Regions from separate parts of the Homo sapiens genome. Here region 2 is linked to region 1. The links come from fine-mapping of genetic effects on gene expression. A gene starts in region 1. The other region holds a variant in brackets. All regions are shown on one strand. Distances are from middle to middle. Region 1 holds the start of CFAP144 (cilia and flagella associated protein 144). Region 2 has its middle 24 kb from the start of CFAP144.

The links. PIP is the estimated chance that this variant, and not a neighbour inherited with it, causes the effect.
Region 2: its variant is fine-mapped to the expression of CFAP144 in unexposed skin (GTEx, PIP above 0.99).

What each region holds. Positions count from the first base shown.
Region 1 is chr1:43,138,477-43,155,159 of GRCh38, forward strand. It overlaps CFAP144 (cilia and flagella associated protein 144), which reads left to right and starts at 9,428. Exons shown (of 4, transcript NM_001101376.3): 1 at 9,428-9,608; 2 at 12,285-12,344; 3 at 14,352-14,455. The coding sequence starts at 9,476. RefSeq lists an enhancer at 14,454-15,417.
Region 2 is chr1:43,116,028-43,132,710 of GRCh38, forward strand. No RefSeq gene overlaps it. Among named protein-coding and RNA genes, the nearest start is that of CFAP144, 24 kb to the right of the region's middle. RefSeq lists enhancers at 3,544-4,185, 4,186-4,826, 5,375-5,896. The variant G/T (reference allele first, on the strand shown) is at 5,897.

The sequences.
Region 1 (16,683 bases):
TAGAATTAATTTGAGCTGGATTCTGCTAGTATAGACATTCTGGAACACCCTTGGATTTTTGCTAATCCTTTAACAGAGATATTATTGGCAGTTAGATAGTAATTATTATGTTAAGAAAATGTAATTATATTCTTAGGTTACTGAAGAGTTTAATCAGAAATAATTAAATGTTTCAAAAATCATGTGGGCATCTCTAACACTGCTAGTGTAGCAAAACCTCCTGTCCAAAACCTCCTTCCAGTCACTACCTCCTCCATCTTTTCCAAAGAAAAGCCTTACCCTGACTTAACATGCCATAGTGTGGGCGAAGGATTACCCAGGTGCTGAGGCAAGAGACTGAAGGCACAAACTGTTGCAGTATAATAAGGAAAATAGTTAGAATAAGAATAGTTATAATACAAATTAGATATAGAGATAACCATAGACATTATCAATCATTAGTATAAATATTATTACTCATTAGCTTTTAATATTACTCTTTGTTGTATTACTAATATAACCAAGGAATAACCAGCGGGTATAGGGTCAGGTGCCAACGGGACATTGTGAGAAGTGACCTAGAAAGCAAGAGGTGAGCCCTCTGTCACACCTGCATAAGGGCCACTTGAGGGTTCCTTGGTCAAGCAGTAATGCCAGTGCCTGGGAAGGCACCCGTTACTTAGCAGACCGTGAAAGGGAGTCTCCCTTTCCTTGGAGGAGTCAGGGAACACTCTGCTCCACCACCTTCTTGTGGGAGGCTGGATATTATCCAGGCCTGCCCGCAGTCATCCGGAGGCCTAAACCCCTGCCTGTGGTGCTGTGCTTCAGTAGTCATGCTCCTTGTCCACTTTCATGTTCCTCCCGCACTCCTGGTTCCTCTTTGAAGTTCTTAGTAGATAGTGGTAGAAGAAATAGTGAAAGTCTTAAAATCTTTGATCTTTCTTATAAATGCATAGAAGAAAATGCTGACATATACTGCCTTCCCTCTCTGCTTCGGCTACCTAAGAGCAAAGGGCCCCCTGTCCCATGATCACGTGACTTGCTTGACCTTATCAATCACCTGGACGACTCACCTGCCTTACCCTGCCTCCTTGTCTTGTATGCAATAAATATCAGCACACCCAGCTATTTGGGGCCACTACCGGTCTCCACGTCTTGGTGGTAGTGGTCCCCCGGGCCCAGCTGTTTTCTCTTTATCTCTTTGTCTTGTGTCTTTATTTCTTACAATCTCTCGTCTCCGCACACGGGGAGAACACCCTCAAAGCCCCGTAGGGCTGGACCCTACACCATAGATTAGTTTTGCTTAGCTTTAAACGCTTTATAAATGGAATTACACAGGATGCATTATTGTGCCTGCATTCATTCAACACTATGTATGCCAGATTTACCCATATTATTGTATGTAGCTGTATTGTTCATACATTTGTATTGCTGTATAATATTCCAGTGTATGAATATGCCATAATTTATTTATCCATTACACTGTCATTGAATATTGGGTTGTTTCCAGTTTGGGTTTATTACAAATAATGCTGCCATGAACCTCTTTCATATCTTTAATTATACTTGTGTAACCATTTATTTAATACATATAGATAGGCAGGAAGTTACTGGATTATACAATACATGCATACTCTTCTTTAGTACATAATGTCAAACATTTTCCAAAGTGGTTCTACCAATCTACATACCCAGCATCAGGGTATAAGAGCTCCAGTTGCTCCATAATCTTGCCAGTATTTGGTATAGACCATCTTTTTAATTTTAGCCATTCTGATGGGTCTGTAGTATTAACTCATTGTGGTTTTAATGTGTATTTTCCTGAACATCTATGAGGTTGAGCACCTTTTTATATATGATTGGTCATTTTGCTCTCCTCTTTCATGAAGTACCTTTTCAAGTCTCTTACTATTTTTCTACTGGAGTGTGTATTTTTTTATTTATTTATAGGAGTTCTTTTATATATTACTGATAAGATCCCTTTTTATATTTGTGGATTTTCTTTTTACATTGTATGGTGTGGCTCTATCATAATTTACCTATTTTTATTTATAATTATTTAGATTGCTTTCAATGTTTTTATTCCAACAACTTCTATGAATTGAGGATTGTGGGTATTGTTTAGGATAGAGTATTTAGTATCAATCTCTTAGGTTTTTTTCAACAGCATTCAGCACCATATGAAAGGCAAATGGCTGGGATCAGCCAGGTTGAGTTTTTCTTTCCAGGAAAGTGAGATTAAAAAATATAATACCACAAGATAATTGATAATATTGGTTTTCAAAAAGTCATTGAAATTATAAAATTGATAAGGTCAATCACGTGACTTGCTTGACCTTATCAATCACCTGGGCTACTCACCCTCCTTACCCTACCCCTTGTCTTGCATGCAATAAATATCAGCGCGCCTAGATATTCCAGGCTGCTACCAGAATAGCGCACCCAGCTATTCAGGGCCACTGTTGACTCTGAACTATGTAAGGAGGGAAGTAAAGACAGCATGGGAATTAGAGTTACTAGATATAGAGAAAGAAAGGATGGTGGGCTGGAGGCCAAGTGAATTGGGAGGAATAGAGTGACTACACTGTAAGGACAGGAAGTCATGGTCAGAGAACAGTATATCTGAATATGTGGTTTCAGAAGTGGGACAATTCTTCAGTAATGAGAAGGACCAGATATGCCCGTAAGTGGCTGAAGTAGAAGGCAAGTGGTGAATTTTGGTGAAAATTTGCAAACCATGCATCTGACAAGGGGTTATATCCAAAATATACAAGGAAATCAAACAACTCAATAGCAACAAAACAAAACAAACACCAAATAATTTAAAAGTGGGCAAAAGACCAAAATAGACATTTCTCAAAAGAACACATATATATGGCCAACAGGTATATGAAAAAAATGTTCAACATCACTAATCATCACGGAAATGCGAATCAAAACTACAGTGTGATATCACCTCACCCCAAATAGAATGAGTATTATCAAAAAGGCGAAAATGACAAATGCTTGTGTGGATATGGAGAAAACGGAACCCTTACGCACTGTTTTGGTGGGAGTGTAAACTAGTACAACCATTATGGAAGACAGTATAGAGTTTCCACAAATGAATTAAAAGTAGAAGTATCATATGATTCAGAAATCCCACTACTGGGTACTGATCCAAAGAAAATCAATATGTCAAAGGGAAATCTGCACTCCCATGTTTCCTGGAGCCTTATTCACAATAGCCAAGCTATGAAATTATCCTAAAAGTCCATCAATGCATGAATGAATAAAGAAAAGGTAGTACATATGCACAATAGAATAAAATTTAGTCATAAAAAAAGCATGACACCTTGTTATTTGTAGCAATGTAGATGAACCTATAGGGCATTACGTTAAGTGAACTTAGAGGACATCACATTAAGTGAAAAAGCCAGGAACAGAAAGACAAATACCACATGATCTCACTCATTTGTGGGCTCTAAAAAAAGTCAATCTCATAAAAGTACAGAACAGAATAGTGGTTGCTAGAGGAGAAATGGGGAGAGATTGGTGAAAGAGTACAAAATTACAGATAGGAGAAATAAGTTGTGGTGTTCTATTTCACGTTAGAGGGACTATTGTATATTTCAAGACACCTAAAAGAGTCTTTTCGATATTTGCACCAAGAAGAAATAAGTGAAGTGATGTATTTGTTACATATACTGATTTGATCATTACACAATGTACACAAGTATTAAAATATCACACTGTACCCCATAAATATGTGCAATTCTTATGTGTCAAAAATCAAACTTTTACAAAATACAGAATGTGTTATAAGTAAAACACACACACACACACACACACACACACACACACACACACACACACACAGAGAGGCCAGAGAATTGAATCAGGCCATCTAAATGAACACTGAAGTCACTCAGTGTGATGAACTCAAGAATAGGACTTTGAGACAATTGTAACCATGTTAATAGGAAAAGAGAGAAAGAGAGTGTCCAGGAGATGTTAGGGGACAGTGCAGGGAAATGGTGATGTATAGCACAAGCTTTAAGGAGCAAGAGGTTTTCTTTTTTTTTCTTTAAACATCCCTCCACTGGGAGTTCAGACCCACTGCCCATCTATCTCCCTAGCACCTGCTGCTCTGTGTTCCCCCACAGGCCCCTCAGGTCACTCAGCATCCTCAGCATTGGGCGGGTCACTGCTTGGCTCAGCAGAGACATGAGGAAGGGTCCTGAGCTTTATAACCCTTGGGCACTGCAGTGGGGAAGTGGTCATGGGCTGGGGCACCATTGCTGGTTTTCAGTGTTCGTGCTGAATTTATCAAAGTTTAACAACATACCTTATACCAGCAATTCAAGTCTATTTATATGTAAATATGCATATTATATTTATTCATCATATATAGTTGCATCATTTATACAAATATCAATACAACTGACTCTAAAATATTATATATTTAATAAATAAAGTCTATATTACAAATACATATGTACATATACACATAATGTGTGTAATTTTTTTTTAACTTTTAGGCTCTGGAGTGCATGTGCAGGTTTGTTATATAGGTAAACTGCATGTCACAGGGGTTTAGTGTACTGATTATTTGCCACCCAGCTAATAAGTATAGTACACCATAGGTAGTTTTTCAATCCTCTCTCTCCTCTCACGACCGTCAAGTACACATGTAGGAGCAAGAGATTTTTAGTAAGAAGAGAGGAATAATGGTTTGAAAGGAATCAAAAGGAGCAAAGAGAACCTATACACCACATTCCCACACTGAAGTACTTAGAGTTTCAGAGAATAAGTAGAGTCTCTACCTGAAATACACAGGAAGCAATGTCCTCAAGGGAAATCCAAATTACATTTAAAGCCAGGAGAAGCAAGGAACTGTCCGTAAAGAAGCAGTCTAAGGAAATAGGGAAGTTTACTAATCATGCAGCTGAACTTCCATAGAGTACAACTGAAAGTAAGGGAGGAAAAGGGTGTTGGGTCAAGAAAGAACAATCAGAATATTATGGTGATAAAAATACCAGAGAGAATAGGTGAGCAAAGGGACTTATGATTTGGATGGTGATCAAAGAAACCAGGAATGGTCAGCAGAGGGGGTTGCTTCATCAGACTAAAGAAAGGGGGAGGGTGCACTCTCCTTAGTTATCTGACATGGAGACAGGCATCTCTGGTAGTGAGCAAGGAAGTCCAAATCTAGTCGTTAGGCACCCAGGAGTGGGCAGTCATCCTGCCAGTCTCAGCCCTACGTTTATGGTTCCAGTTAAGAGTAAGTCATCAAACCAAGAGAACACAGGAACCAAGATGGTACGCTCCAAAAAGTTCAGTTCTGCTCTGAAGCGCCCCCTACAGGATCCTGTTCAGAGACGCAGGAGGAGGCAAAGCTGCTGGTCTGCGCTTTGCGCCATTCTGTGCTCCCTCCTACCTGCCCTCTTTTGGCCCAAGTTCTAGTCCCATCTGCTTTGTCACCCCCTGCCCACCTAAGGGACTTCATTCTCTGGTCTTCACCGTCCTCATGGTAAAATGGACGTGACATCTTTAATCACACATATCTATCCAGTGATGTAAATGCAGTGAAAAGGGCTTTGAACAGTGTTGTCAGGGAAGGAGACTGAGGCACTAATTTCTTCCCATTTTCCCAATTCCTGCTTCAGCACCGCTCACCTAGGCTCCAGCCCTCTAAATCTATCCTAGCCCTTTGGTCGATCTTTGCCTACTGAGGGCAAAATTACATAGTATCCCAAAAACAAGGATTAATACTACAGCCCCATTTCTTCTCTTTGCCATTTCCCATGACAACTCTTAAACCTAGAAACTGGTGCCATTTCCCTGATTGGTGGGACCTGCTCACTAGACCAAAAGGGATGTGTATGTACATTTCATAATGGGCATTCAGTTAGGGGATGATGTGAGGGCTGTGTGTGAGATAAATCCTGGAGTTGGTCTGGCCACATCCCAATGACTCATTTGGACTCCTTTGGACAAGTAACTAGAGCTCCCATTTGAAAGAATGACAAGCAAGCTACCTCAAATTTCTCTTTCTCAACCCATGACTTCACCTTTTCTGTTCCTTAATGCTCTCATCATCCAGCCCTCCTTTCTGCTGTTTTTCCTCAGTTTTCAAGCCTGCACCCTAGTCTTCTGTGCCATCCCACTTTTTTGGGGTTCTGCCCTATCTGTTACCCCTCTCCGAATAATGTCAGCCCCGCCCACTACCCTACTGTAAGGATCTGCCCAGCTCTTCCTCTGTGGGTTTTAAACCGTGCATCTGCTGCCACCACGTTCATCAGGGTCCCAATTTCCATTACACCCCTGCCTTTCCCCCGCTCCTCCTCCTAGCCCTTGTTTCTAATCCCCTGTACTCTAGCTCCCACTCCCAATCGAGCCACCCCCAACCAACCATGACAATTCACAGCTCTCATCCTGGAGAGATGGTTTCCCTCATGCTGGGACAGTTCTGGGGCAGTTCAGAATTGCCAGGACTGTGGATTCCCAGCAGCTTGGCCTGGTGGACACACGGAATGCAAGACAACAGCAAACCCACCTTCAGCCTTGGTAAGTGACAGGACCCCTTTTCCATGACCAGATCCTGGTTACCTTGATACTATTTCTATTTTGTCTCCATTCCCGTCTGGGCAATCCTCTTCAGATGCCAGAGATTTCCTTTTTTTTGACAGTTTGCTCCTTTCCTCTCATGCCTGGTCAGCCAGCCTGCATGAGGTTCTCTACGTTTGAGACTGGCTTCTCCACGGAACTTGGTCTGTAGCCACAGAGCAAACTGCAGGGCCATTGACAGAGAATGAAGAGGAGAGTGAAGAGTGGAACACATCTAATGTGTTCTCTGGAGGGTAAGTCTTGTCGATCTGCCCTGCATTCAAGTGAGTGCAACCCCTGAGAATCACACATAGGGCACAAGGTCCCTGCTGTAGATAGATGGGGACTTAGGTTTGTTTCCTTTGGTCTGGTTCCTCCCAGACTCCATTTTCTTCATCCTAGGATTCCAGGACCATCCCAAGGACGTTCTGCCCTTGAGAAATGTCTCCTGCAAAAAGGGGAGGGTCCCTCCATTGTGCTCTCATCAAAGCTCTGAGGGTGAGCCTCTTGCTCAGGCAGCACTTCTACTTCAGAATGGGAAAGGTAGCAGTCTAGAAGGCAAGAATGTGTCCAGATCCTGACCAGATGATAGCATCACATGAACACATGACATTAAGAAGTGCTCTCCTCAAACTGAGGTCTAGATTCAATATAATCTCAATAAAAATCCCAAAAGATATTTTTAGGGAACTTGACAAGCTCATTATAATTTATATGGACATACAAAGGGCCAAGAAGCGGCAAGACTGTCTTGAGAAGACATTCTTCCCTACCAGATATTAGAATGTGTTACATAAATTATGGTAATTAAGATAGTGTAGTGCTGTTGCAAGCTTAGACAAATAGACCAATGGCACAGAATAGAGTCCAGAAATGGACTTGCACAAATGGGGACACTTTTTTTATGGACACAGTAGCATAGCAGACCAGTGAGGAAGGACTATCTCTTCAATAATTTGCTGGTGGGTCAACTGGATACTCCTTTGGAAAGAAAAAATTAAGCTGGATTCCTACCTCACACTGCACTCGAAAACCAATTTCAGGTGGAATACAGATCTCACTGAGAAAGGGTAAAACAACAAATCCTCTTAAATATTAATAGTTCTGCCCACAGATGGCCATGGAGCTCTTGAGATGTGTTATGAAGTGTAAAATCTGCACTGGATTTTAAACATTAGTAGGACAAAACAATGTAAAATATCTCAATAATTTTTATATTCAAACGTTGAATCATTGACAAATTGGATATACTGAGTTAAATATCACATTATTAAAATTAGTTTTATCTAATTCTTGCTCTCTTAATGCAGATACTAGAATGTTTTAAACTACATGAGTGGCTCAGCTCATACTTTTATTGAACAGCACTGCTCTAAAAAGTAACATAAAAGTAACCTCAGGTCATCAAATTAGAAAAAGATGTCTTAAATGAAAATTAAGAAGCAATAATCATAAAGGAAAAGACTAATATATTTGACTACGTTTAACTTTTGGTGTCCAGAAGACACCATTAAGAGACTAAAATGGCAAGCCACACAGAGGGAAAATACATTTGCAGCATGTACAGCCCTCAAAATAATATATTAAGAACTCCAACAAATTGATAAACAATCCAATTAAAAATTTTGTTCAACACTGTGTCCCAGACTAAACCCATTCTGCAATTCACATTGTGTCCTGAGCGAATGAATGGATGGATGAATGAATGAAGTACTGAGTGGGGAAGAGCACAGTCTTCAGACAGTATTTAGGTGCTTACTAAAAATAGGGGTGGCTTCTTTCTTTATGCTAGACCTACTTTTTATTTATTTTTTATTTTTTAGAAGGAGTCTCGCTCTGTCCCCCAGGCTGGAGTGCAGTGGCGCAATCTTGGCTCACTGCAACCTCCGCCTCCCGGGTTCAAGCGATTCTCCTGCCTCAGCCTCCCGAGTAGCTGGGATTACAGGCATATGCCATCACGCCTGGCTAATTTTGTATTTTTGGTAGAGATGGGGTTTCACCATGTTGGTCAAGCTGGTCTCGAACTCCTGACCTCAGGTGATCCACCTGCCTCAGCCTCCCAAAGTGCTGGGATTACAGGCGTGAGCCACCGTGCTCGGCGATTCTTTTAAAATAAACTACATTATTTAAGGTATCTAGCAGACTCAAATTCATAGAAACAAAAAGTGAAATGCCAGGGGCTGGAGAGAAGGGAAAAGGGAAACTTGTTGTTTAATGGGTGTGAAAAAGTTCTGGAGATTGGTTTCACATAGTTTGAATATACTTAATACTACTGTACTGTAATACTTAAAAATGGCTAAGATGGTAAAATTATATTACGTGCATTTTAAACACAAACATTAAAAATAAACTATAAAGTCAACAAGTTCCTTAATTAGGAAAGGTTTATTCTGTCAATATTATCACATTGGTAATCTTGGTCACACTGGCCAGAACGTTTTCTCAGAGAGGAAACCTCCGGTTTTTTTGTGAGGTTTTGATTCTGGGCATCTGCTTTAAGGTGGGAGAGGTTTCTGACTCCTTCCAAAAGCTTTTTTAGGAAATGATTGGCCAAGGTGAGGTCCAATCATCTGTCCCTTACCTCCTGGGTCTGCCCCTTGCCGGGAAGCCCTTTCCTGGCGGTATCCAGGGGACCTTCTAGTAACCAGCCGGGCCTGAGGAGCTGGGGCAAGTGAGTACAGTGCCAGAATAGGGCGGGGCGCGAAATAAGATCCCGACCGGCGGGCGCGGGGCGGGGCGATGCAGGCAGGGTAAGGGGCTGGCAGAGTGAGACCCGCCCCGACCGGGCAGCACTACCCGAGCGCTGTTGCCTGGAGACCACGGGACGCCGTTGCCTGGAGACAGCGGGGACGCGTTGCCTGGAGACTGTGGAAGGCCCAGGCAAGAGGGCGCGTGGCAGCCCAAGGCCATGGCGGGACACCCAAAAGAGAAGGTGATTCCAGATGAGGTCCATCAGAACCAGATCTTGCGGGAACTGTACCTCAAGGAGCTACGAACCCAGAAACTCTACACGCAGTATCACGTGAATCCCCTCCGCAAGAGTGAGAGGCACGGCGGGGTGGGGGAAGGGCGAGAGCGGGAGGGCGCCGGGGAAGGAGGAGCCCTCCGGGTTGCGGGGTGGGAACGCGGTCCCAGCAAAAACTCTTTCCCCAGCACCCGCCCCCTTTCCTAGATTTCAGGAACCATGACTTTGGAGAGGCCACATCATATCAGATGTATTCGCTGTATTAAAGTTCATGCGCAACACGATTAAATCTTTTCGTTGTAGAAAAAAAAAAGTTGTAGGGCTTTTTATTATTTTACTTTTGAAATAATTATATTTTGCAGGCTGTTTGTGTTTTGTTTTTGTTTGTATTTTGGGTTGTTTTTAACAAGTGAAAGGTTTTTCTTCAGGCTTCTGATATTGCCCTTCGGAAAGTTCTGGGGTGCCCCCTGATAAAACATCCCTACCCTCCACTCTTGTCACTGAGCACTCTCCTTGGGCAGTTTGTTCTGTCCTGTCACACCAGCTTCCCCTGAATGCCACTGGGCCTGAAATGGAGCTTCAGATCCACACGCCCAACCACCTCACAGCTCCCCTCCCTGGACAACCCACAGGCACCTCAGACCCAGCAGGAGGAAAGCCAGGCTCATTCCCACCTTCCCCACTCTCTGCTGCTCCAGAATACCCTGTCTCTGCAAAAGGCCCCGGATGATTCACTCTCATGATCAGAATCATTCACTCTCATCATCTAATGATCTCATGATCATTAGAAGCCTCGGAGTCCTCCTCAAGGTCTCTCTCCCTCCACACACTTAAAAAAAGGCACAAGTCCTGTTTATTAACATTCCTCTCCCCTGACCCACTTGTTCCTGCTTCAGTGAAAGACACCATCATGCATATGGATTCCTCTCTGCCTCTGCTCAGGTACTTTCATGCTCTAAGTAGCACCTCAAACAGCCTCTGCCTGCATCCTCACTCCTGAAGCCTCTGCAGGGCCCTAGTCCTTGCCGCCTGGATTGGTCTGATGGGCTCCCAACTCCTTATTCTCTTTCCCTCCAAGCTGGCCCCTCCGACCAAACCCCTACACCTTTGCTAGCTTAGCACTATGCTAGGAGGACAATTAGATCACATCAATCCCACCTAAAATCCTTCTCATAGCCTCTGAGGTAAAGTTTAAATCAATCACGACATAAGGCGCATTGGATCTGGCTCTGGTTCCTGCCAGCTTCATGCCATACTCCTCTCCCCCACTTTACCCTGCTCCTTTAAGAAATACTTTGGTGCCTACTCTGCACCAGCCATTGCTGACGAATCCCACACACACTCCTTTCCCCCCTGCCATTTCTAAATACATGGATTTCCTAAATGCATCATGTCATTTCCCACTTTACCTGCATAAACATTGTTGCTTCTTCCTGAATGCCTCTCCCAACTCTGTGCCTAATATGTAAAGTCCACTTTGTTGCCTGGCTCTATAGAGAAAATGTACTGTCTTCACTTTCCTTCTAACTAACTTGGTTTTCTTCTGGAGTCCCCAACCACTAGTTTCAGGAAAGCAAATTAGTGTCCAAAGCCGTTCAAACTCGGTCCATTCCAAATAATGGAAATAATCTCTTCAGGCAACCTTCATGCTCTCTAGGGAAAATGCTGCCTCCCAGCTCATGTCCCTTGAGCATGTGAGCCATTGGAATAAAGTGAGAAAATATTACAACTTGTATTGATTACTTTTATTTATAAAGATAGAAATTTTATTTGCTAATATACTGATAATAGTCCATAAAAACTATATAATTATACATATTTTAAGGGCGCATGCTCTAAAGTTCTTTTACTGATAGGAGTTTGAGACAAGCAGCTTGGAGACCACTGGTTTCTACTGGTGTCTGCTCATTTCCCACTACTCTCCATCCAGCTCACTCCACTGGAGCCACTCTGGCTCTCTTGACGTTTCTCAAACTCCCCAGGCTCACGCTCATATGCTTCCCACACACACAGCACATTCCCTCACTTCATTCAAAACTCTGCTCATATGTATCTCCCTAGAGATACATCACCCACACCCCAGCCCCAACGCCAACTCTCCATCCACGTAACCTGCTTTACTGTTCTCTATCACACTTACATTTGCCGGGTGATATATGTATGTTTATTGCCTGTCACCACAAATAGAGTAAAAGCTCAGGGGACACAAGAGCCAGCTCTGTCTTGTTTACAGCCTGTTCTTCAGTGCACAGTAATTATGAGCTGAGTGGATGAATGTGGGTGCTGCTCCTCTGTTACCATGTGCCCTCCTGGGCATAGATCACTGCCTGGCAAACCTCTTTGGCCTTCCCCATAGGCCAGCACTGTCCAAGAGAATTCATCAGTGATGAAAATGTTCTCTGTCTTGGCTGTAGTCAAAACTGTAGCCATTAACCGCCTGCAGCTATTGAGCACTTGAAGTGTGACTAACGTGGCTAAGGAACTGAAGTGTTCATTGTAATTAATTTTAGTTATTCAAATTCAAGGAGCCACATGTGGCTGATGACCACCATTCTGGGCAGTGCCACTCTAGATTGTGAGGTTCTTGAGGGCCTTATCCAATCGTGCATTATCCTAGCACCCAGGATAATACCTGGCATGTACCAGATACTCAGTGAGTGCCAAATGGGTGCCCTGTTTAAGGTGGACCTTAGAGAGGGCAGGGAACTCATGTTTTAATCTGAACTTGTGAAGCTGTTTTCTTTTTTTCTAGTTCATACAGTCACCAGGAAGCCCATGTCTTGGCATGATAACCTGGAGGAACCTGCAGATGGTAAGTCCTGGGCTTTGAAATGCCATTGAGATAGAGCCCAGAGAGGCAGGCTGGCTGGAGAGACCTCTCAGGGTCGTGATATCTTGGAGCAAGCATCAGAGTCCTCTGCTTTGATCCTGGAAATGGGACTCATACTAACCAAGCTCAAAAAAGACGGATACTCAGACAGTCTGTGGTAGATAGAATAAAAAAAATAAAAATTTTTTTAAATAAAATTTTTAAAAGATGGACATACTCAATTATAACTGTCAAGCCAACTAACGTTCCTATTGACTTAACATTGCCTTCGTTCATTCATCAAACATGTAGATGTTATAAGCACAAGTTCTGAAGCTGTACTAACTCAGTTCAAATCCTGGTTCTGCTACTCATTAACTGTAACATTGGGCAGGTTTTTTACCTCTTTTAGCCTATTTCTCAGGATTGATGTGAGGATTAAACAAAGCAATACCAGTGCATAGAACAGTAGCTGGTACATGGTCCTCAGGAAATATTAGTCCCATGATTATTTTCATTATTAGGTAATCTCTATGGTGGGGCTGGGTGGAGGGATCTCATAGCATAATGAAGAAGAAGAGAAGTAGACTTGGAAATAAGTAGACAAGTAAAGAGGGACCATGACTGATGTGAGAACAGCATAGGAAACAGGTGCCCCCATCAGGCAGTGGAGTTCTGGGAAGACCTCTTGGAGGAGGCGACCACAGGGTGAGGTGGAGAAGATTGTGGAAGGACATTCCGAGTTCTATAGAAAGTTACAGAAATGAGAAACATGACTACAAGTAGTTTGGCATGGCCACAACATACAGGTGGAGAAAGGGCCCTATTTGGGAGTGAGAGAGGAGAGATATTTGGTGGAAAACCTGATCCCTCTTGGAAAGCTTTCCTTCTTCCCCTCTACCTTCCATGAGCAAAATTTGGTGAAGGACAGATGACCGCGGCTGGGATGGGAAGTGGGGGAGCAGAGGCTCTCAGAGCATTACGAAGGAGGCAGATAAGTCAGTAGACTAATAGAGAGGGCATCATCACAGGCAATAAGGTGTTATCTGTAGTGCACTCTCCTGACTAGGGTAAAGGATGCAAGCTGGGAACCTGTAGCAATAAGGAATAGAACAGGAAATGAGGGTCCTGAAAGCCAGGCAGGAGTTAGCTGCTCGCTCTCTTATATGAAGGATGTGCCAGCCCAGTGTCAGTCCCTTGAATCACCTTCCTTCATTTCATTCCCAGCCATCTTGCTGAGATAGACATTTTCCTCCCATTTCACAGATGAGTAAAGTGGCCCAGAGAAGTGATGCCACCCAACAAGCCGGTAGTAGCACTGACTCCAAAGCCCAGGTTCATTCCATTGTCCGCCTGCGTCTCTCCGGTGGAGACTCGATAGGGCAGAACTATGGAGCTGCAAATCCATCTGTTGTCGGCAGCCATACTTATTTCAATACACAAAGATTTGACCTCACTTCTTACAACCTTGCTCCTCACTCTCTGTTGTGCTACACTGGCCAAACTCGCTCATGCCTCAGGACCTTTGCTCTTGCTGCCTGTGGTGTGCTCTTCCTCTGCCTCTTCCCAGGGCTGGCTCCTGCTTGGCAACCAGAGAGGCCTTCTCTCGCCACCCCATCTACAGCAGCTGCCCTTGCCTGCACATGACCCTTCACCTATTCCTTTCTTCACAGTGTGTATCCCTGTCTGCCACCATCACGTCATTTTGTAAACCTGAATACTGTGTCCTCTGCCTCATCTAGAGTATGAGCTCTAGGAGAGCAGGGACCATGCTGTCACTCAGCACTCTATGCCCAGCGCCCGGAAGCATGTCTGGCACAGAGTTTGAGCTCACCACATATTTGTTGAAAGATGAGTGGAGAGACCAGACACCCTGGTCTTGAGGCTGAGGCAAACCTCCAAGGCACAGATGCTCTGCCTGAAAGGAACAATGTGGACGCAGGAAAGGGCACAGGACCAACCTCTGGTCCCAAAGCCTGACTCCTTCATAACTCATACCTCGTCTCCCAGCCAGGTTTCTGAATCTCATTCACCATGCTGCCCAGGGACCAAGGAAGAAGTACCCAGAGACACAGACTGAAAACCAGGAAGTTGGATGGGACTTAGAGCCCTTGGTAAGCGTGGCTCCTTCCTCAGGAAATACGAGGAAACACAGCAGCAATGTAAGTGGTGACCGTAGAATAGAGCAGGGGGCCAGACATGCCTGGGCTTGAACCTGGCTACCTCTTACCAGCTGGATAAGTTACTAAGCTCTCTTATGACTCAGTTTAATTGTTGTAAAATGGAGCTAATACAGTACCTATCTCATAAGCTTGTTATGAGGATGAAACGAGGTGATATTTGTGCAGTACCTGGAACAGTGCCTGGCACATGGTAAACACTGTGTGTTTAAATAAAGGTACTGACAACAGATACCTGAGTCAGCTCCATCAGCTATCAGCAAGGTGGTCTTGGGTGTACCACTCAATATCTCTGAGTTCGGCTTCCTTATCCATAAAAAATGGACATGTGGCTGAGCGTAGTGGCTCACACCTGGCATCCCAGCACTTTGGGAAGCCAAGGCAGGCGGATCACCTGAGGTCAAGAGTTTGAGACCAGCCTGGCCAACATAGTGAAATCCCATCTGTACTAAAAATACAAAAATTAGCTGGGCATGGTGTCGCACGCTTATAGTCCAGCTACTGGGGAGGCTGAGGCAGGAAAATCACTTGAACCCAGGAGGCGGAGGTTGCAGTGGGCCGAGATCACGCCATTGCACTCCAGCTTGGGTGACAGAGTGAGACTCTGTCTTAAAAAAAATATTAATTTTAAAAATATATAAATAAATAACATTTTTTAAAATTAAAAAAATAAAAATTTAAAAAATTAAAACAAAAAAGCATAAAAAATGGACGTGTGAGTAAGGGTCCTCTCCTTGTTTGATTGGAAGGGCACAATTAGCCACTTTAGCACACAATCACCCCAAGGAATACAGTGCTTCCTTTTTTAAGGAAGAAATGTGCAATATGGAATAGACAAGTCAAAGAAATTTCTGCCACACGAGTCTTTAAATCTGCTTATGTCTTTGGTCATGCAGAAGGTTTTCATTTTTAAGTCATCAAATATGCCACCAATTCTCATTATGGTTTCTGGGTTTTGTGCCTTGCTTAGGAAAACCTTCAACACCTACATTACCAAGCAACTATTCTATATTTTTCTCTAACTTTTTTTTCTTACTTCTTCTTCTCTCTTTATATATGTGTGTGTATATATATATATATATATATATATATATATATATATACTCTCTTTTTATATATATAAAAATATATTCTCCCTTTTTATATATATATTCTCTCTTTTTATATTCTTTTTATTTATATATGTAAATATATATAAATAAAATTATATATAAATTATTATATAAATTTTTATATAAAAATTATATAAAATATTAAATAAAATTTTATATAAAATTATATAAAATAAAAATATATAAAATAAAATTATATATAAATAAAAATTATTTATATATATCCCCTCTTTTTATATATATACATACAAAATATGTACATATATATGTACATATACACACACATATATGTATACATATATACGCACATATACACACACATATATGTATACATATATACGCACCTACAAGGACGGACTTGGTACAAAGAGACAGGTATGGTTAGAGAGCTGGAGAAGATAACTACTCAAAGAGAAAGAGGAGGTGGGGAGGTAACATCGTGAATAAGAGAAAAGTGTTAAAATATGTATTCAATGACAGTTATTGAATATAAATATGAATAATGGGTCAATATTCAATGACTGTTAAAAACCAGAAGGAATGGTACTGGAAGTGCTAGTGGAAAAAAATAAATTTAAAATTTAAAAACCAGAAAGAAGACTTTTCCAAGTGGGGAAACTACTGTGAAGGGCATAGGCACCACTATGAGGTTTTGCAGTGAGGGAGGGAAAGAGCCTGGCCTCGACTCTGATTACAGCATGGGCAAGTGCGACTGTGTAGCCAAGGAACGAGGTGGGGGTAAGTGACGGAAAAATACTAGGAGGAAACATCAGGGATAAGGGCAGATTCTGGCTAATTTCCACCTAATAGGGTGCTTGCTGAAGGCAGGCTAGCAGGATCAGACATCACTTGGAGAGTGGTGGAGGATGGGGAACCCAATCAGATATCAAGGGTGATCAGATATTAAAGGTAGGGGGTTCTGGTTAAATCAGCTTAGCAGGATTTTTGCTAGAATTGGACAATGTAGAGGAAATGGAAATCCCAAAATCAGACCTAGTTGAAAAGTAATTCAGGGTTCCTGAGTAGAGTTCATTCAAGGAAAGAATCTTT
Region 2 (16,683 bases), 22 kb before region 1:
TTTTTTCCAATTCTGTGAAGAAAGGCATTGGTAGCTTGATGGGGATGGCATTGAATCTGTAAATTACCTTGGGCAGTATGGCCATTTTCACAATATTGATTCTTCCTACCCATGAGCATGGAATGTTCTTCCATTTGTTTGTATCCTCTTTTATTTCCTTGAGCAGTGGTTTGTAGTTCTCCTTGAAGAGGTCCTTCACATCCCTTGTAAGTTGGATTCCTAGGTATTTTATTCTCTTTGAAGCAATTGTGAATGGGATTTCACTCATGATTTGGCTCTCTGTTTGTCTGTTGTTGTTGTATAAGAATGCTTGTGATTTTTGTATATTGATTTTGTATCCTGAGACTTTGCTGAAGTTGCTTATCAGCTTAAGGAGATTTTGGGCTGAGACAGTGGGGTTTTCTAGATATACAATCATGTCATCTGCAAACAGGGACAATTTGACTTCCTCTTTTCCTAATTGAATACCCTTTATTTCCTTCTCCTGCCTAATTGCCCTGGCCAGAACTTCCAACACTATGTTGAATAGGAGTGGTGAGAGAGGGCATCCCTGTCTTGTGCCAGTTTTCAAAGGGAATGCTTCCAGTTTTTGCCCATTCAGTATGATATTGGCTGTGGGTTTGTCATAGATAGCTCTTATTATTTTGAAATATGTCCCATCAATACCTAATTTATTGAGCGTTTTTAGCATGAAGGGTTGTTGAATTTTGTCAAAGGCTTTTTCTGCATCTATTGAGATAATCATGTGGTTTTTGTCTTTGGCTCTGTTTATATGCTGGATTACACTTATTGATTTGCGTATATTGAACCAGCCTTGCATCCCAGGGATGAAGCCCACTTGATCATGGTGGATAAGCTTTTTGATGTGCTGCTGGATTCGTTTTGCCAGTATTTTATTGAGGATTTTTGCATCAATGTTCATCAAGGATATTGGTCTAAAATTCTCTTTTTTGGTTGTGTCTCTGCCCAGCTTTGGTATCAGAATGATGCTGGCCTCATAAAATGAGTTAGGGAGGATTCCCTCTTTTTCTATTGATTGGAATAGTTTCAGAAGGAATGGTACCAGCTCCTCCTTTTACCTCTGGTAGAATTCGGCTGTGAATCCATCTGGTCCTGGACTCTTTTTGGTTGGTAAGCTATTGATTATTGCCACAATTTCAGATCCTGTTATTGGTCTATTCAGAGATTCAACTTCTTCCTGGTTTAGTCTTGGGAGAGTGTATGTGTTGAGGAATTTATCCATTTCTTCTAGATTTTCTAGTTTATTTGTGTAGAGGTGTTTGTAGTATTCTCTGATGGTAGTTTGTATTTCTGTGGGATCGGTGGTGATATCCCCTTTATCATTTTTTATTGTGTCTATTTGATTCTTCTCTCTTTTTTTCTTTATTAGTCTTGCTAGCGGTCTATCAATTTTGTTGATCCTTTCAAAAAACCAGCTCCTGGATTCATTAATTTTTTGAAGGGTTTTTTGTGTCTCTATTTCCTTCAGTTCTGCTCTGATTTTAGTTAATTCTTGCCTTCTGCTAGCTTTTGAATGTGTTTGCTCTTGCTTTTCTAGTTCTTTTAATTGTGATGTTAGGGTGTCAATTTTGGATCTTTCCTGCTTTCTCTTGTGGGCATTTAGTGCTATAAATTTCCCTCTACACACTGCTTTGAATGCGTCCCAGAGATTCTGGTATGTTGTGTCTTTGTTCTCGTTGGTTTCAAAGAACATCTTTATTTCTGCCTTCATTTCGTTATGTACCCAGTAGTCATTCAGGAGCAGGTTGTTCAGTTTCCATGTAGTTGAGCGGTTTTGAGTGAGATTCTTAATCCTGAGTTCTAGTTTGATTGCACTGTGGTCTGAGAGATAGTTTGTTATAATCTCTGTTCTTTTACGTTTGCTGAGGAGAGCTTTACTTCCAAGTACGTGGTCAATTTTGGAATAGGTGTGGTGTGGTGCTGAGAAGAATGTATATTCTGTTGATTTGGGGTGGAGAGTTCTGTAGATGTCTATTAGGTTCACTTGGTGCAGAGCTGAGTTCAATTCCTGGGTATCCTTGTTGACTTTCTGTCTCGTTGATCTGTCTAATGTTGACAGTGGGGTGTTAAAGTCTCCCATTATTAATGTGTGGGAGTCTAAGTCTCTTTGTATGTCACTCAGGACTTGCTTTATGAATCTGGGTGCTCCTGTATCGGGTGCATATATATTTAGGATAGTTAGCTCTTCTTGTTGAATTGATCCCTTTACCATTATGTAATGGCCTTCTTTGTCTCTTTTGATCTTTGTTGGTTTAAAGTCTGTTTTATCAGAGACTAGGATTGCAACCCCTGCCTTTTTTGTTTTCCATTTGCTTGGTAGGTCTTCCTCCATCCTTTTATTTTGAGCCTATGTGTGTCTCTGCACGTGAGATGGGTTTCCTGAATATAGCACACCGATGGGTCTTGACTCTTTATCCAATTTGCCAGTCTGTGTCTTTTAACTGGAACATTTAGTCCATTTACATTTAAAGTTAATATTGTTATGTGTGAATTTGATCCTGTCATTATGATGTTAGCTGGTGATTTTGCTCGTTAGTTGATGCAGTTTATTCCTAGTCTCGATGGTCTTTACATTTTGGCATGATTTTGCAGCGGCTGGTACCGGTTGTTCCTTTCCATGTTTAGCGCTTCCTTCAGGAGCTCTTTTAGGGCAGGCCTGGTGGTGACAAAATCTCTCAGCATTTGCTTGTCTGTAAAGTATTTTATTTCTCCTTCGCTTATGAAGCTTAGTTTGGCTGGATATGAAATTCTGGGTTGAAAATTCTTTTCTTTAAGAATGTTGAACATTGGCCTCCACTCTCTTCTGGCTTGTAGGGTTTCTGCCGAGAGATCCGCTGTTAGTCTGATGGACTTCCCTTTGAGGGTAACCCGACCTTTCTCTCTGGCTGCCCTTAACATTTTTTCCTTCATTTCAACTTTGGTGAATCTGACAATTATGTGTCTTGGAGTTGCTCTTCTCGAGGAGTATGTTTGTGGCATTCTCTGTATTTCCTGAATCTGAACGTTGGCGTGCCTTGCTAGATTGGGGAAGTTCTCCTGGATAATATCCTGCAGAGTGTTTTCCAACTTGGTTCCATTCTCCCCATCACTTTCAGGTACACCAATCAGATGTAGATTTGGTCTTTTCACATAGTCCCATATTTCTTGGAGGCTTTGCTCATTTCTTTTTCTTTTTTCTCTAAACTTCCCTTCTCACTTCATTTCATTCATTTCATCTTCCATTGCTGATATCCTTTCTTCCAGTTGATCACATCAGCTCCTGAGGCTTCTGCATTCTTCACATAGTTCTCGAGCCTTGGTTTTCAGCTCCATCAGCTCCTTTAAGCACTTCTCTGTATTGGTTATTCTAGGTATACATTCTTCTAAATTTTTTTCAATGTTTTCAACTTCTTTGCCTTTGGTTTGAATGTCCTCCCGTAGCTCAGAGTAATTTGATCATCTGAAGCCTTCTTCTCTCAGCTCTCAAAGTCATTCTCCATCGAGCTTTGTTCCCTTGCTGGTGAGGAACTGCGTTCCTTTGGAGGAGGAGAGGCGCTCTGCGTTTTAGAGTTTCCAGTTTTTCTGTTCTGTTTTTTCCCCATCTTTGTGGTTTTATCAACTTTTGGTCTTTGATGATGGTGATGTACAGATGGGTTTTTGGTGTGGATGTCCTTTCTGTTTGTTAGTTTTCCATCTAACAGACAGGACCCTCAGCTGCAAGTCTGTTGGAATACCCTGCTGTGTGAGGTGTCAGTGTGCCCCTGCTGGGGGGTGCCTCCCAGTTAGGCTGCTCAGGGGTCAGGGGTCAGGGACCCACTTGAGGAGGCAGTCTGCCCGTTCCCAGATCTCCAGCTGCGTGCTGGAAGAACCACTACTCTCTTCAAAGCTGTCAGACAGGGACATTTAAGTCTGCAGAGGTTACTGCTGTCTTTTTGTTTGTCTGTGCCCTGCCCCCAGAGGTGGAGCCTACAGAGGCAGGCAGGCCTCCTTGAGCTGTGGTGGGTTCCACCCAGTTGGAGCTTCCCGGCTGCTTTGTTTACCTAAGCAAGCCTGGGCAATGGCGGGCGCCCCTCCCCCAGCCTCCCTGCCGCCTTGCAGTTTGATCTCAGACTGCTGTGCTAGCAATCAGCGAGACTCCGTGGGCGTAGGACCCTCCGAGCCAGGTGCGGGATATCATCTCGTGGTGCGCCGTTTAAGCCAGTCGGAAAAGCGCAGTATTCGGGTGGGAGTGACCCGATTTTCCAGGTGCGTCCGTCACCCCTTTCTTTGACTCGGAAAGGGAACTCCCTGACCCCTTGCGCTTCCCAAGTGAGGCAGTGCCTTGCCCTGCTTCGGCTCGTGCACGGTGCGCGCACCCACTGACCTGCGCCCACTGTCTGGCACTCCCTAGTGAGATGAACCCGGTACCTCAGATGGAAATGCAGAAATCACCCGTCTTCTGCGTCGCTCACGCTGGGAGCTGTAGATTCGGCCATCTTGGCTCCTCCCCGACTTTGTTTTTCGATTGTTTTGTCCCTTGAGATTTTATCTTAGTTTGACGTGGATTTTTTTTCATAGAATCATTGCCCAGGTAATTTTTTAATTTCTAAAAAGAAATCATTGAGATTTTGATAGACATTATGTCAAATCTGTAGATCCCTTTTGGTAATATTGACTTCTTAACAATATTATATCTTCCAATCTATGAACATGGATTGGAAAGGATATTCTACTTAAGGGTGTCTTCCTTAATTTCTTTCACCAAAATTTGTAGTTTGCAGTGAACAAGTCTTTTGCCTCTAAGGTTATTCCTAAGTATTTTATCCCTTTGATGCTATTGTAAATAAAATTTTGTTCTTAATTTCCTTCTTGGATTGTTTGTTGTTAGTGCATAGAAAGACAACTGATATTTGCATGTTGATTTTATATCTTGTAACTTTGCTAAATTGGTTTATTAGTTTCAACACTGTTTTTGTTGGGATTTTTAGGGTTTTCTACCTATAAGACCAAGTTGTCTGTGAACAGAGATAATTTTACTTCTTCCTTTCCAACTTGGATGCCTTTTATTTCTTTTCCTTGCCTAATTTCTCTGGCTAAGACTTCTAGTACTATGTTGAATAGAGTGATAAAAAGAGACATTCTTGCTTCTAATTTAGAGGGAAAGCTTTCAGTCTTTCACCATTGAGTATGACGTTAGTTGTGGGCTTTTCAAAGATATGCACAGCGGCTTTTAAACGTCTTGATTTTCCTAAGACTTTCACCCCTGCTTCTTCTCAGGGTCTTAGATGTTCCATTGTAATTCTCTGCCTGTAATCTCCCGCTCCAAGTGCCCTTGGGTCTACAGTTCTCCGGCAGTTTTCATGTGCCATGGCACCTGCCACTGCTTTCAGTGGGGTCCAACCTGCTATCCAACTATGCCACCGTTCCCATCTAAGCTGAGTCAGATGAGATAAAAATCAGTTCCTCAGGCAGCCTCCAGACAAGACAGAACAGTGCAAACAAGTCCCAGTCTTTTCCCTCTGAAAGGGGAATTGTGTGACTTCCTCCTGACTGTGTTGCACTGAGGAGAAGGTAGGCAAGGGCTCAAAAAAAAAAAAAAAAAAAAAAAAAAAGCAACACAATTTCCTACTGTGTTAAGTGTTGCTTTGTCTTGATTGGGTGTTTAATTGATTGGTTGCTGCAGATCCTTGACTGGTTTCTACAGCTCCTACAACTGTAAGAGCCGAGATTTTTTTTTTTTAGACAGGGTCTTGCTGTTGTCACCCAGGCTGGAGTGCGGTGGTACAATCTCAGCTCACTGCAACCTCCGCCTCCTGGGTTCAAGCAATTCTCGTGCCTGAGCCTCCCGAGTAGCTGGGACTACAGGCATGTGCCACCACACCCAGCTAATTTTTGTATTTTTAGTAGACACAGGGTT[G/T]TGCCATGTTGGCCAGGCTGGTCTTGAGCTCCTGACCTTGAGTGAGCTGCCTGCCTTGGCCTCCCAGAGTGCTGGGATTACAGGCGTGAGTCGGCGCACCCGGCCTCTGATTTTCAGTAAATACGTTGTCATTTACTTGATGTTTCCATGGGAGAACAGGGACCTGGAGCTTCTGCCATCTTGCTGACATCACCATAACATAACTCTTTAGACTTCCAAGTCTTGTCTTTTTAAAAACGTTCACATTTAGTTCTATGATCCAATTTGAATTGGATTTTTGCATGAATACCTGGTTTTGAATTGTAACTCCACCATGTTATTTCAATGTGGCCTTAACCTCTCTGGGCCTCAGTTCCTTCATCAGTAAGATGAGGGGCAAAATAGCATTGGGAGGATTCTGCATTTACATCTGAAGAACTTAGAAACACAACTGAAAAATACTGTCGTTTTTTTCCTTATCCACACTGGATACATTCCAAGGTCCCCAGTGGATGCCTGAAACCACAGATAGTACCATACCCTATATATACTATGTTTTTTCCTATAGATAGGTACCTATGATAAAGTTTAATTTATAAATTAGGCACAGTAAGAGATTAACAATAGCTAGCAATAAAATAGAACAATTATAAGAATAGACTGTAATAGGCTGGGCGCAGTGGCTTATGCCTGTAATCCCAACACTTTGGGAGGCCGAGGCGGGCAGATCACTTGAGGTCAGGAGTTTGAGACCAGCCTGTCCAACATGGTGAAACCCTGTCTCTACTAAAAATACAAAAATTAGCTGGGTGTGGTGGTGCGCACCTGTAATCCCAGCTACTAAGGACGCTGAGGCAGGAGAATTGCTGGAACCCGGGAGGTGGAGGTTGCAGTGAGCTGAGATCATGCCACTGAACTCCAGCCTAGGAGACAGAGAGAGACAGTCTCAAAAAATATACACACACACACACACACACACACACACACACACATATATATACCATAATAAAAATTATGTGAATGTAGCCCCTTTCTGTCTCAAAATATCTTATTGTGCTGTACTTACCTATTTTCAGACTGCAGTTGATCATGGGTAATTAAAACTATAAAAAGTGAAACCACAGATGAGGGGATACTGTAGTACATTTAATAAATGTTACTTGCCATTAATATTTCTGTAGATTTTTGATCAACTTTTGCTCTGGAAGATCAGAGGGGACTGACCTAATTAGGTCTGATAAAAGGCTTAACTTTATCACTTAGCATTGCTTGAGTATTTTACTGGCCTGGTGGGTGTACTGAGAAAAGCAGGCTTATGTTTCAACAGTGGACTCTATTGTGCGAAATAAATATGAGTCTCCTCCCTCTTTGCTGTTGCCTTATTTGTACTAGCATGCCAGTTTGAATACACAGTGTTCATGTCAATATTTTTGTTGATCAATTTATCAGCTCAATTTATAGAAACTTTCAGAGTCTTCCTTATTGATGTGTTTCCTGGGGCAAGGCCCATTGTTTTGCTTAACATTTCCTAGAACCTAGATGGGCCTCTGTACTCAGTTGCCCCAAGAATTTTGATCAAAACATGGACCAGGCTTTGGTATTAAATTTCCAAAGCCTGGAGGCTGAAAGCAGTTTGGAAAAGAGTTGATTCACTTTAAGCAGTTCTTCCTCGTGGGTGTGTGTGTGTGTGTGTGTGCGTGTTTGATTTTAAAGATTTCTGGAATACTTTCTAAATACAGAAAAATATGCAAATGAATATAACAAAAATATAACAATCATCCTTGTATCCATCATCCAGGTTTAACACCTTTTAACTTTTTGCTATAATTGTATCAATCCATTCTTCCCCAGAAGTAGACACTATTCTGAAATTAGTGTATATTCTTCTGTTGATGTTTATAGTCTTTTATCAAATATGGATTTATTAAAAAATAATATTATATATAGTATTATTTTGTTCTCATATTTTAAATATAAAATAATGTATGTTTTACTTTTTCTGATTTGTTTTTTTCACTCAACATTCTTGTTAATGACTTATCTATGCTGATACATGGATCGTTGTAGTGGGTTCATTGTTAACTGTTGCATAGAATTTCATCCCCTAAATATTCCACAATTTATTTATTCACTCACCTACTGAAGGACACACACACTGTATAGATAGTGTTTAATTTCCATTTACCTTTCTTCTTTAGTTTTATATTTATTTATTACTAATTCATCTTCATACTTTCCCCACTATTGTCTAAGTTTTCTCCCAAATTCAGATACACAAGATTTTCTTAAAACTTCATCTTGTTGAAGATCTCTTTTCTGGAGCCTTCTGAGTTGCTTCAACCTGGTTTGGTTACTTTGTTATCATCCTGAAGTCTCACTTTTCTCTCATATTGGGGATGCCTTCTTGGCTTCTCTCCTGTGCTAGAGTCTCCGTTCCTCTGCCCCTCATCTCTGCACCCATTCAATGGTGCTTCGTGTTTATGCAAGGAGCTGTGGTAGAGGGATTAGAAGCATAAGCTTCAGAAGGAGACAGATCTAGGTTGAATCTTTGTTTATCACAATTATGAGCAAATGTATTATCTTCACTTAGCTTCAATTTCTACATTTATAAGGTGGACATAAAACACCCATCTCACAGAGTTGCCATGAAGATTAAGTGAAATGCTATTTCAGCTGATATTTGTGCTACACATATTTTCCCCCAGACTACACCGTAACTTTTCAATTTGTTTGTTGTACCTTTAGATACATAGACACATTTTATTTGTAGTCAAATGTATTATCCTACATAATTTACATTTTATATGTTCTGTATCCTTCCCTACCCCAAGCTCATAAACAGATCATTATTATAATTTCTTTTAAAAGTTTAAAGTTTTGCTTTCACATCAAACTGATTATCTACCTGAAATGGATCTGTATATATGGTGTGATATATAAGGCTCTGTTTTTTTAAATATGGGTAACCAATTGTCCTAAGATCAAATATTGAATAGACCATTTTTTCTACTTTGATTTGTAGGGCTTACTTTTGTCATATTACTGTCCCATGTATGAAGGTCTGTTTCTGGTCTCTTTATTCTGTTTCAGTGGTCAAAAACCACACAATTTTAATCACTATAATTTAAAAATAAACACTAATATCTTTAAAACACTAATATCTTTCTGTTCTTTCATAAAATTGATAAACTCTTATGTAAACTTACATTGTACTTTGTATTTTCTCTGGTGTTTCTATATACACAACCCAATTATTTATGAATGCTAGCAACTTTGTTTACTCATCAATTCTTAAACTCTATGTTTGTTTTTCTTGTCTTACTGCACTAGTCAGGACATCTAGTGCAATGTGAAGAGAAGTGGTAATTATGGGCATCTTTGTCTTGTTTCTGACTTAAATTATATGTAGTATTTTACCATGAAGGTTGATGTTTGCTATAGATTTTTAGAAGATATACTTTTTAGGTTTAAGAAAGTTGCTGCTGGTTTTTTGTTGCTGTTGTTGTTGGTTTTTTCTTTTTTCTTTTTTTTTTTTTTTTTGAGATGGGTCTTGCTCTGTTGCCCAGGCTGGAATGCAGTGGCACAGTCATAGCTCACTGCAGCCTAGAACTCCTGGGCTCAAGTGATCTTCCCTCCTCAGCTGCCTGGGCTTCCTAAAGCACTGGGATTACAGATGTGAGCCACTGCACCTGGCCAAGAAAGCTTCTTTTAATCCTTATTTGCTAAAAGATTTTTTTTTTTGTACATATGAGATATGGTTTGCTAATGTATCGAGGCTCTTTACATCTCTCTTCGTAAATGAAACTGGTCTATGTATTTTCTTTCTTCAGCTTTTTACTGGCTTTGGTATCAAATTAGATTGATTACCGTAAATGAATTTGAGAGCATTTCCCGCCCAGTGTCCCCCTTTTTGGATTATTTGGAACAACTTGTGTAAAATTAGAATCATATGCCACTTGAATATTTGACGGAACTTGCCTTTAAAATTTCCAAGGTCCTTTTTTTAGTGGGGAGGGGGGCAGATTATTACAAACTATTAATTCTATCTATTTAAAGGTTATAGATCAATGTAGGTTTTAAGACTGTTTTTGGTAAATTATATCCTTACATAAGATTGTCCATTTCATCTAAATTATATTTTTATATAAAAGTGTCCTTTTCATCAGTTTAAAAGTTATCTATTTTCAAATTTATTAGCATAAAGCTATTCATAGTATTTTTCTTGTGATTTTACCAAGCCTTATCTGTGACCATACTTTGTTATTTATTTTCCTGGGACATGGTATAGTTCATCTCCAGTCACCTTCCTCTGGACTTACAGGTTATTCTTGTCCAGAATTTTAGTGCTATTTTAAAAATTTTAACACAAAATTTGGTCATAACTATTATTGTTGGCTGGGTGCAGTGGCTCACACCTGTAATCCCAACACTTTGGTAGGCTGAGACAGGAGGATTGCTTGAGCCCAGGAGTTCCAGACCAGCCTGGGCAACATAGGGAGACCCCATCTCTACAAAAAAATTTAAAAATTAGCTGGGCATGGTGGTATGTGCCTATAGTCCCAGCTACTCAGGAGGCTGAGGTGGGAGGATCACTTGTGCCCAGGAGGCTGAGGCTGCAGTGAGCCATGATTGTGCCATTGCACTCCAAACTGGGTGACAGAGGGGGACTGTCTCAAACAATAATTATTATTATTACTTTACATACTTGATATTTATTTGTCATTTTTGTTGCCTGTAAATGTCTTTGTTTCACCCTTATTAGTGAAAGATCATTTTGCTGGATCTTGAACTCTAGGCTGACTATTGTTTTCTCTCAGCACTTTGCAGGTATTATTCCATTGTATTCTGACCTGTATTGCTGCTATGGAGTAGCCAGCTATCAATTTAACTGGCAGCCTTGCATAGGTAATCTCTCTTTTCTGGCTGCTTTTAAGACCTTCTGTTTGTCTTTTGTATTCAGTGTTACCACAACACCAGGGGCTTGGTGTGGGTCCTGCTGCTTGCCCCAGAGAAAGCCCATCACTGAGACCAGGATTATTGCCAAGGAAGAAGGCTTTAGGCTTTAATTGGGTGCTGTAGCCAAGGAGATGGGAGATCAGTCTCAAATCTGTCTCCCCTGATGACTGGAATTAGAGGTTTATATGGCAGGGAAGAAATATAACAATGTATAAGAAAACAGAAAATGTACCCCTCCCAAGGAACTAGGGAGGGGTAAGGAAGCAATAGTGATGAATGAGGTGTCTGGCATTTCATTGTCTGGATGCTGTGACCTGGTGAGTTTCAGCTCTTTGATACTTTTTTTGAGTGGCCTGAGGGTGTTGCTAAGAAGGAACTCAGATAAAACAAATGCAAGTTTCAAGCTTTAAGGGCCAGGCTTGGTGGCTCACGCCTGTAATCCCAGCACTTTGGGCAGCTGAGGTGGTTGGATCACGAGGTCAGGAGATCGAGACCATCCTGGCTCACACGGTGAAACCCCATCTCTACTAAAAATACAAAAAAAAAATTAGCTGGGCGTGGCGGTGGGTGCCTGTAGTCCCAGCTACTCGGGAGGCTGAGGCAGGAGAATGGTGTGAACCCAGGAGGTGGAGCTTTCAGTGAGCTGAGATCATGCTACTGCACTCTAGCCTGGGCGATACAGTGAGACTCCGCCTCAAAAAAAAAAAGAAAAAAGAAATTGACCAGAAGGGTCCATTTCTATGTTTATCCAAAAACAAAAAGACAACAAAAAAAGTGTCTATGGGACTATTGGGTTGATTTCATCCAGCAGTTGACCATGTTGTATCCAGATGTGAATTTCTTTTTACTTATCCAGCTTGAGAATTTGTCAGACTTCTTTAATCTGTTGTTTTGTCTTTCATCAATTTGGGGGAATTTCTTCAAGTATTGTCTTTCTCCTATCTACTCTTTCCTGCTACATCAAATTTATACAACATGTTCTCTTCTATCTTATGTGGATGTGGCTTTTAAGTTCTTTTTCATGTTGTTCATCTCTTTGTCTTGAAGTAATTTCTTCAGTTTTTAATTCCAATTTACTAATTACCTTTTCTTTCTTTCTTTCTTTCTTTTTCTTTTTTTTTTTGAGATGGAGGTCTTACTTTGTTGCCCAGGCTAGAGTGCAGTGGTGCAATCTCGGGTCACTGCAGCCTCAACCACCCGGGTTCAAGCAATCCTCCTGCCTCAGCCCCCCAATTAGTTGGGACTACAGGTGCGTGCCACCAGGACTGGCTAATTTTTGTACATTTGTAGACACAGGGTTTTGCCATGTTGCCAAGGCTGGTCTCAAACTCCTGAGCTTAAGCAATCCACCTGCCTTGACCTCCCAAAATGTTAGGATTACAAGCATGATTTATAATCCTTTGGGTGTATACCCAGTAATGGGATTGCTGGGTCAAATGGTATTTCTAGTTCTAGATCCTTGAGGAATTGCCACACTGTCTTCCACAATGGTTGAACTAATTTACAGTCCCACCAACAGTGTAAAGGCTTTCCTATTTCTCCACATCCTCTCCAGCATCTGTTGTTTCCTGACTATTTAATGATTGCCATTCTAACTGGCAGGAGATGGTATCTCATTGTGGTTTTGATTTGCATTTCTGTAATGACCATTCTTTTTTTTTTCTTTTTTTTTTTTTGTTGAGACGGAGTCTCCCTCTGTCGCCCAGGCTGGAGTGCAGTGGCACAATCTCGGCTCACTGCAAGCTCCGCCTCCCAGGTTCACGCCATTCTTCTGCCTCAGCCTCCTGAGTAGCTGGGACTACAGGCACCCGCCACCACGCCCGGCTAAGTTTTTGTATTTTTGGTAGAGATGGAGTTGCACCGTTTTAGCCAGGCTGGTCTCAATCTCCTGACCTCGTGATACTCCTGTCTCAGCCTCCCAAAGTGCTGGGATTACAGGTGTGAACCACCGTGCCTGGCCTCTAATGACCATTCTTGATGGGACTTTAAATTGAATAGTGCCCTTTTGGAAGCATCCATTAAAAGTTAGTGCATATATATATACACACACACACACACACACACACACACATATATATACACACACATATATATACACACATATATATATGTTTGGCCTAGCAATAAAAATTTGTATTATTGTTATGTTATGATGTCATTATATCCTCTACCTTAGAAAAAAGACATTATATCCTCTACCTTAGAAAAAATCATATTTCTTTATATTCACACACGTAATGTTAAAGCATATTTTTTTAAAGTGTGGAAGCAGACTTAACCTCTGGTATGAGGACTGGTGCTGAAGAGAGGATCGAAGAGAACCTTTACTTATTTGTATTTGAACGTTTATAATGAGCATATTAATGGCTACTCGTGTAATTAGAAAAAAAATAAAAGAAATCACAAATAATAGCAATTAAAACTTGAGAGGTTTCTGATGCAGCCAGGATGTACTAGCCCTTGCACTGTCACTTAAGAACCAGCAAAGCCAACTTTGAAGGCTCCTAATAGCACTGATCTTCAGTGACTGGTTTGCATGTCAAGGATAGCTGAAGGTGGATTAAAAACTTCTCAGGCAGACACATAATCACCTGAATTCAGGGACCTGCCTTAGAATTGTGTATGACACTTCGCAGTCATAATCACAGGCCCCCGGCTTTGAGCTGCTGAGAATCTCGCACAAGCTCTGCATTAGGCTGACACTTCCCAGGAGGATATAAGAACTGCCAATTATACAGAGAGCTACGCTCTGTAATATCTTGACAGTCTCCACTCTCTCTCTTTCCTCCTCCTGCTATGAGGCTCCAAGTTTATTCCCCAGTTACTGGGGGCCACTCCTGGGTCCCTCTGCCTCGGAAGTCTTCCCTCCTGGCTGTGGCCCAATTAAGCCACAGTTGAGTTGCTCAGAAGTGAGAATTCCTGGGAGGCTTGTTAAGTTCAGTGCTTCAGGAAATGGAAGGAACATCATTAAGAACTTCAGCTTAATAGGCAGCTGGGCCAACACCAGCTGCAAAGCAGAAAAAGTGTAAGTGACTCAGTGTCCCTCAGAGGCATCAAAAAAAACTTGTTTTAACTTTTACCTAATTCTATCCCAAGTGTGTACACTAGCTACGAAGCACATACCCAAGACACCTTCACTTTCCCCACCACTATCACTCTGTTATTTTCATCATGTATCATTACAACCTCATCACCCATCAGTATTCTCATCATCGCTTTGATTCACCGTCATCCCAGAACTATCATCCTTTTCCTATTACACTATCATTCTCAGTATTATCACCAACTCATCATTTAACCATTATTATCACCATCAGTATTATAATCACCCCCATTATCATTGCAAACACCATCATTCAGCTGCACCATTTCACCACTCCCATGGCCACAACCATAATATACGTCTGTAGTTCATGAGAACAGAAAAACATCCTGAAGATTCTAAGAAAAAGCCCTTATTTGAAAGGCAGACAACAAAAGTATTTTTAAATAAGTTTTTCTCTTATTTCAATCAGGTGCAAGAATAAGAAGGTAATAGACTGAGATAAGAAATTAAATGAAGAAATACAATAAAATAAAATTTGACACAATGGTCAAAATATAACCTAAACTGGAGAGAATAAACAGAAAAATGGACCTTGCATAAACATTAAAATCTTCTCAGAATGCAAGAGAAAAGAAGGAAAATTCTGATAATTACAGAATGGAGGATGAGTTACATAGATCCAACCTGTAAGTATTAAAGAATGTCTAAAGAAAACAGTAAATGGATCAGAGGGTCAGAGTAAGTGGATCCAGGGGTATAATATATAGGAAAACACTTTCTGAATTTCCAGAGAAATACTCTGAAGATCGAAATGCCCCACTATATTCCAAGCAAAATTAGTAAAAAGATCTACACCTGCATGCATTCTCTTCTGATAATCTCTTAACCACACTTCCGCTAGAATGATCCATTCAAATCACAAGTCTTAGAACATCATTCCCAGGTTCAAATGCTTTAATCTCTTTCCAGAGCTGTTAATATAAAGGACTAAATTCCAACATGGCCCACAAGGCCCATGGTTGGCCTTGCACTTCTGCACCTGCTCTCCCTTGCTTTCTGCCCGACTGGACCTTCTTTCTGTTCCTTGCACAGGCATGCTCCTTCTAGCACAGGAACTTGGCATATGTTGTTGCCTCCCCCCAGGAATGCTCTCATCCTCCCCCACGAATTTCCTCTGGTTAACTCTTATTTTAGGATCTCATACAACACTTCCACAAGGAAACCCTCCCAGACCTCTCTAACGAGGCGAAGCATACCTACTATACGCTCGTGTAGCACCATGCACCTTTCTACTTTAGTACTTCCGACAAGTAGGTTTATGTTTATTTATAGGACTCTTTGATTACTATCTGCCTCCCACTCAGAGTATAACCTCCACAAGGGTAGGGACCAAGGAGCCAAGTTAAGTTTCCAAGCAGGGCACACACTGCCAGATCCCGTATTAAACACACACATCCTTGCAACACCAAATTGGGAAGTTCCACTGCTGGCTGTCCGCTGTTGCCCTTTCTCCTCTTTCTTCTTTCACGGGCCTCTCCAGTCAGCCTTTGCCTTAAGAATTCTCCAGGTGTGCGGGAGACATCAGACTCATTTATCCCCAAAATTCCAAGGGACACATCAAAACGTCCCAAGCCCTCCCAGTGAACTGTCCAACGTCATCATGGGGCAAAGGTGGGGAGGAGACCTAGAGGACAGCCCAGGAGGGAAAAAGCCACATTACTCTCCCCCTACAATAAAGACTACATTTTCCTGTTTAAAGAACCTCCCTTTCACATTTCAAGTCTTTTCTTGTAGTCTATAGGTATGTGATAATGGAGTGATGGTCACAAGATTGGTTTGTGTCTAGCAACGTGTTGAGGCTCTTTTAAAAAGTAAAGATGTAAAGATCTCAAAGTCTTTTGAGAAAACAGGAAAAGTCCCAGTCAACATCCTGTTGTGATCATATTCCTGAAAGACTGGAAGATAGGAATATGAAAAGGGGATCAACCACGATTCCACTTCCCTAAAACCAATGGCTTTTTCTTTTCAGTGTATTTTCTTCCACTGTTTTATCAAGTACTGCTTTTCTCCACTTCATTTCACATCACATGCATTGCTCCAAATTACTCCATGCTGATTACATGTATCTTAAATGGATGCATAATATGATGCATGGTTTCACAAAACTTTATTTTGTAATCAATACTGAAATGAACTTCTTCGCAGATGTAGGATTTTCCATTTTTGTACTAATTCCTAAGGGGTGATTTCTAAAACTGATGTTATAGACTATGTTTGGCAACTGATTTTGCTAGCCAACATCCATTCTCACTGCTTCTAGTAACAGGACTCTGAAGCTTTCCTCTGCTGAAGCTTAAAAAAGCCCAGAAATTCCAGCACACTATTTTGTGTGGTTAAAATAAAAGGATGATCAAAGTATGAAGCACATAGTTTATTGCCATACAAAAATTTCCTTTGTTCACAACGCTTAAAGATGGGGAGAATAATTAGAACAAATTTCACTGGGAATACACTTGACAGGTGAAGTACATTAACCACATAGTGAATGAGTTCCAATTTTGTTACAGTCGAATTATTAAAGTCTAGTTGGTCAATTAGGATGACAACAGGCTTCTGTGGAAAGAAAAGTCTAATTGAAGTTTAGGGAGTGCCTTTATATGGCTTGAGCAACACAGTGGAAATCTGTGACAACATTTATATTCCCTAGACATGAGAGGGCAGTGCCAGTGTTGACTGGTGAGGCTTCAGAGATTAACTCAAAGGCTAACATGGTTCGGCCCTGTTGCAGCCTGAGCTGTAGGTCTTT